2 separate regions of the Homo sapiens genome follow, and region 2 is linked to region 1. The links come from fine-mapping of genetic effects on gene expression. Tissue or cell type: whole blood. Region 1 holds a variant in brackets; the other region holds the start of a gene. All regions are shown on one strand. Distances are from middle to middle. Region 1 overlaps ANO6 (anoctamin 6). Region 2 holds the start of ANO6 (anoctamin 6).

Evidence for each region. PIP is the estimated chance that this variant, and not a neighbour inherited with it, causes the effect.
Region 2: ANO6 starts here. The variant in region 1 is fine-mapped to the expression of ANO6 in whole blood (TOPMed, PIP 0.98).

Annotation. Positions count from the first base shown.
Region 1 is chr12:45,261,590-45,264,502 of GRCh38, forward strand. All of the region lies in intron 1 of ANO6 (anoctamin 6), which reads left to right. Among named protein-coding and RNA genes, the nearest start is that of ANO6, 47 kb to the left of the region's middle. The variant G/A (reference allele first, on the strand shown) is at 1,612.
Region 2 is chr12:45,214,525-45,217,437 of GRCh38, forward strand. ANO6 (anoctamin 6) reads left to right here and starts at 1,571. Exons shown (of 20, transcript NM_001025356.3): 1 at 1,571-1,867. The coding sequence starts at 1,798. It also overlaps the pseudogene PLEKHA8P1. RefSeq lists enhancers at 1,337-1,436, 2,447-2,576 and a silencer at 1,897-2,206.

The DNA of each region.
Region 1 (2,913 bases):
GTTTGTGTAACTCCAAAGGACTTGCTTCTAATTTATTTGTAAATGTATCAAGTTTAGTGTTTATTGAGGCCATTTGGATGTCTCAGTCTCTTTGAGGTGTTGCAGACTGGCTCATCACAGGTTCTGAAAGTCTTTCACCTCTGAGAACAACTGTGCATTTGATCCAGTTGGTCACTTGTGTGTCTAAAACAACCATCAGTTGCTGCTTCTCAGCCTGAGCAAAGCATACTTACGGTGCATCACATCTGAAAGGCATACTTTCTGGCAGAGCAAAAGCTAAATAATACATTTCAATTTTAAAAGGTACCGTTTTCACTTAAATGGCATGTTTTATGGACTATACAGTGAAGGCAAGCACAAATGATATGCAGTATACAAGTATAATACATCAAGGATCATAGCAAGGTAAATGATTTTGATCCACGTTTAACCTGCTGATAAGGAAACCTTTCTATCCATGCTGCTTGATGTCTTTTTCCAATTATACATATTATATGTGAGCCATTGTAGAAATTTTGGGAAATACAGAAAACTGCAAATAAAACAAAAATCACCCCAACACTACCCCTCAAAGATAAACCACCATGAATATTTTAGTATGCTGCTTTCCCGCCTTTTAAAAAAATGCAAATGTAGTTTTATATGGTTTAGACCTATGGTATCCTGCCTTTTCACTTAACTTGCCTCATAAGCACTCTCTGTTTATCTCTTTTATTGGGTTAAAGTATACATAACATAAAATTAACCATTTTAACCATTTTTAAGTGTACAATTCAGTGGCATTAAGTATATTCAGTGTTGTGCAATCACCACCACTATCCATTTCCAGAGCTTTTTTTTTTTTCTTTTTTGAGACGGAGTTTCGCTCTTGTTGCCCAGGCTGGAGTGCAATGGCGCGATCTCTGGCTCACCGCAATCTCCGCCTCCTGGCTTCAAGCAATTCTCTTGCCTCAGCCTCCCGAGCAGCTGGGATTACAGGTGTGTGCCACCACACCTGGCTAATTTTGTATTTTTAGTAGAGACAGGGTTTCTCCATGTTGGTCAGGGTGGTCTCAAACTCCCAACCTCAGGTGATCTGCCCGGCTCGGCCTCCCAGAGTGCTGGGATTACAGGCGTGAGCCACTGCGCCCGGCTTTCCAGAGCTTTTCATCATCAGCACTCCCTATATTTAAGAAGGCTTCACAAACCACATTTAATGGCTGAATAACATTCCATCACATAAAATTTACTTAAAGGTGTTTTCCAGAAGACATTCAACAGATATTTAGTTTGTGCTTATTATAAACTATACTTTGTGGCGAAAGTAGTGAACAAAACATGGCTTTTGTCCTTCAGGACCTGTTGGAGGAAATGGCCAATTAGTAGGCAGGTTGAGTCCTGTAGAGGGGCAAGTACATGGTCTATGGGATCATGTAGGAGGGGAACTTAACTTGAGGTATAATTTGCATAATCATTCCTTGATTGTTGCAGATCTAGCATGCATCAGATTTTTTTGCTGTTATAAATAATATTGAGAGAGATTTGTAGGTATAAATATTTGTCTATATTTCACATTATTTTGTGAAGTTCTTGAGAAGTGAAATTACTGGGGCACGCATTCTAACAGGGGCC[G/A]GTACAAGATGTTCTATTTTTTATCTTGAGAGACAGAGTCTTTCTCTGTCACCCAGGCTGGAGTACAGTGGTGCGATCACTGCAACTTTGAATTCCTGGGCTCAAGTGATTCTCTCACCTCAGCCTCCTGAATAGCTGGGACTACAACCATCATGCCTGGCCTGGCCTTTTTTTTTTTTTTTTTTTTTTCCTGGAGAGATGGGATCTCATTTTGTTGCCTGGGTTGGTCTTAAACTCCTGGCCTCAAGCATTCTTCTCACCTTGGCCTTCTAAAATGCTGGGATCACAGTCGTGAGCTGCCCTGCCTGTCCTAAAATGTCCTTTTAGGACACTAATAATTGTTACCTACTGTGCTATTCTCAAGGTTAGGAGCTGCACCAAGGATTTCCATTGCCTGTTTCACCTTAAACCTCTCCTAACTTTTTATAGATGTGTGTACAACTTGCCTCTGGCAGGATTACATGAAGAATGGGGGCTGAGAAGTGAGTGTATCCAACTGGGAAGAGCCAAGGAGGGTCAGAGGCAAAGGGATTGTGGCTGAGGCTGAGGTTATGTGGCAGGTAACATGCACACCATCCAGGTGTTTGTACTCATTTCAGAGGCCTTGGTTTGACAAATGCTTTAGGGCTGTGTTCACTGTGCGTGCTGACAGCTTGGCTCCCTTCTGTGAAATTTCATTCTTGTGAACTTCAAGTCACTGAAATAAAAGTAGCCTATTTTTTCCCCTTTAAACGTATCTGTTCATCGTCTAAACAAACTCCCAGTCTGTTATCAGAGCTGGAGGAGACCTTTGGATATCATATCATCTTCCCTGTTCAAACTAAACCTAAAGATTCTAAGACTTAGAAAAGTTAAGGAACATTCGGAAGGAAACCGAGGAAACCAGCTTGGTGGGTGTAATGAGGGGTTATAGCTCATATCTCTTGATTTAGCTGCTGGTCACCCCATTACCTGCTGCATGTTGTCTTCAGGCTTTATTCTCTCCTTAAAGGAATTTTTTCTTCTTCCCACATCTTGATTCCTGATTTTGTGCTCTGCTCTTTCCTTCTAAGATGTGTTATTCGAGTGTTGAATACATGTATGTCTTGGCTAATGCCTGTGAACTGGAAATTATGCTGATAAGTTTGCATTCCTTATCCTACTCTGTCCTTGGCCTACTAATTGGTTTGACAGTTGATTGTTCTCTTCATCTTGGCCTCTTTGTTTCTTGGAAAGTTTCTGTTGACTCTGGTAAAAGTAATCAGTTATGTCTTATTTAGTCCCTTTGGATAATTTTTTGGGGGGTTGGCTTTTATTAATTTT
Region 2 (2,913 bases), 47 kb before region 1:
CAGTGAAAGGAAACAATCTCTTCTCATCTTTCTTCTCCCATCATTTTTTTCTCCTATCTTCAGAGTACTGTATTGTTGTCTCTTTATACTAAAAACAATTCTGTTTATTCAAAAAAAGTACCTCAAGAAGCAAGTATAGTGTTTCCCAGGTATTTTCTTAAAAGTAATTTCATCATGTCTTTTCATGTATATATTCATGTCTATTTTCCCACTTAAGATTGGTCCCAATGTTTTCTTTCTTTCAGAGAGAACATTAAAAATGTTAGGAAACTGAGGTGCAAGGATTGCTGGAGGCCAGGAGTTCGAAACCAGCCTGGGCAACATAGTGAGACACCCATCTCTACAAAAAAATTTAAGAATAAGCCCCACATGGTGGTGTGCTCCGCTTGTAGTTCTAGTTACTGAACTCCCACCTCGGCAACAGAGCGAGACCGTCTTAAAAAAAGTATGTGGAAGAAAAAACATGCACAGTAGATTTAGTGTTATTGTGATAACCCTAGCACTTCAGTGGAAAAAATATAAACAATTTCAATGAGTAGACAATAACACATATAACCAAGATTTCAAATATACCTTCTAGCCCTTTTGAGAAGTCAAAATTGAACAACCTGAATGTACCAGCTTTTTTGAAAAAAGTTTTGTAGACACGCGATCCCCAAAACCTGCCGTTCAAACAACTCCAAGGGTCTTTAAAGTACTAAATCCCTTTGTATTTGTCCTATCGGTCCCTTTGGTTTCCAGGAAAGCATTAAAAATAAAAATAAAAACTCTCTGCCTTAATTTTATTTCACGACTTTCTTTTCTCTTATTATAGCTTTCCACATTGCTTTAGAAGAGTTTACATCTAACTCTAGTGGTCTTCGGCTTCTTCTCCCTCTTTGACACAGAGGACTAGTTTCAATTGTACAAATAGGCTGGACGCTTCAGCGATTATCTTCCGACCACTCCCTGTGTGCTCGCGCGGGCGGAGTAGGGGGCGCTTCTCCACTCTCCGCGACCTCAATGTATGCGGAAATCCTCCTGCCTTTGTGCACACGTTTATTTAGAAAATTCTCTCCACCCCCACTCCCGTCCGTCCCGCCCCTTCTTCTTTTGCTTATTCTCTGAGTTTTGCCTCTCCTCCCACCCCGACTCCACCGTAATCTTAACCTACCCGTACAGATTCCACTTTCCCACTTCGGAGCTAGAGTAATTTAAGATCCCCCCATTATTAGCTCCACGTCGCCTTTAAAAGCCATTCAAACGAGTTCGCCTTCCAGGGTTCTGCAGTTGTGCTGCAGCAGCATTTCCCTCCTCTCCAGTATCAGACGTTAAAACAAAGCAAGCCACAGTGTGTGTCCACAGACGACCTTGGAACGAAAAGCTGCCCTGTTTGGGATCAATGCTCAGGGAACCCAGTCCACTCCCGCACTCACGTGTTCCCGCCTTGCCCTCCAGCTAGTTCCCCCGCGCGCAGGATCGCACTACTCCCTCTGCAGTCTCGCCTGCCGACTTCCTTCTGCGCGCCTCGTAAAACCGGGGAAGTTCAATCATTCCGCAGCGAGCCGCGGCGGCCGCACTGGGCATGCTCAGTCTCCGGGCTCCGCTCGGCAGGCGAGAGGCGTCCTCCGGCTCTGGGCTCCGGTCGGTGGGTGCCTCGGCTCGGCTTTCCCCGGCGCTGGCTGGGCTCAGCGGCCCCTGAGCCCAAGCGACACACGCCCCGCGGTCCCCGATCCGGCCCCTGGGAGAGCCGCGCCGTTCTGGAACCCGGGAGCCCCCAACTTCGCGCCAAGTTCGGAGCCGCCTTCTGAGGGAGACATGAAAAAGATGAGCAGGAATGTTTTGCTACAAATGGAGGAGGAGGAGGACGACGACGATGGGGATATCGGTGAGCGAGGGGTCCCCGCGTCCCCACCCGAGAGCCCGAGCCGACGCGGGAAGAAGTTCGGGGACTGCGCGGGGGCGCTGTGCTCTCCGCGGGGGAGGTTGGCCGAGACGCTCGGCCGCTCCGGGCAGGGGAGGAAGCCCGCTGTCCCCGGCTGCTTGCAGACTGAGGCCCCGGTGCGGCCCCTGCGGGGCTGAGGCGCGGGGCGCGTGGTGGCCCCGAGGACAGGCTCCTGACGGGCGGGGGATGCTGCCCCTGAAAAGCCTGGCAGCTGCGGGGACGCCTCTGCGTGCGGAAGTCTCCACTCAGAAGCAACTTTGGGGTCACTTCCCCGACTCGCAGAGTGCTAGGGTTGCCCAGGAGCCTCGGCACTGGGGCGAGCCCCCTGGGCGGGGTCCGGGGAGCAGGCCCGCATTTGGAGGACAGGGTGTGACCCATCTGAATCCTCGTTAAAGTAAAAGCCGACCGACGGCTCTGGGAGGTTTGAGGCCTGGCGGGGCGGCCCCGGGAAGTGATTTGTGGCCGCTAGGCGCGCGCTGGAAACCCTTTCCCATCTGCGGAGCCCACCGGAGCTGTGATCGGAGGAGGAATTCCCCCAGGCAGGGAGGACCGCAGGGCCTTTTTCACTCGTCCTGAGGGGCCCTGGGGCTTGGGGAGCAAACCTGGGGTGACCCATTTCTAGTTAGAGTTAAAAATGCATGGAAGTGACAAGACGAACGGAGGGAGAGCTGTTTTAAGAGCAAAAAAAGAAAAAAAGGGCAAACAAAAGGGATGAGAGGAGGTGAGGAAGGGGAAAGGAATGAGAGGACTAGAGAGAAAATCAGGTCCCTAAAGAGAACACTGTCGGGGGATGATGATATAATGTGTCCCTCCAGAAGACTCTAATTAAATTACCAAGCCAGTCTGTTGTGGCGACTCGGCTTAGTCTCCTGGATGCCAAATCAATTTTAAAGCAGAACATCCTGCTGATGTTCTAAAGCCCTGTTGTTATCTAATAACTTTAAAAGTAACTTAATTTTAGGAGTTGGGTGTGGTTTTTATTTCTGTTA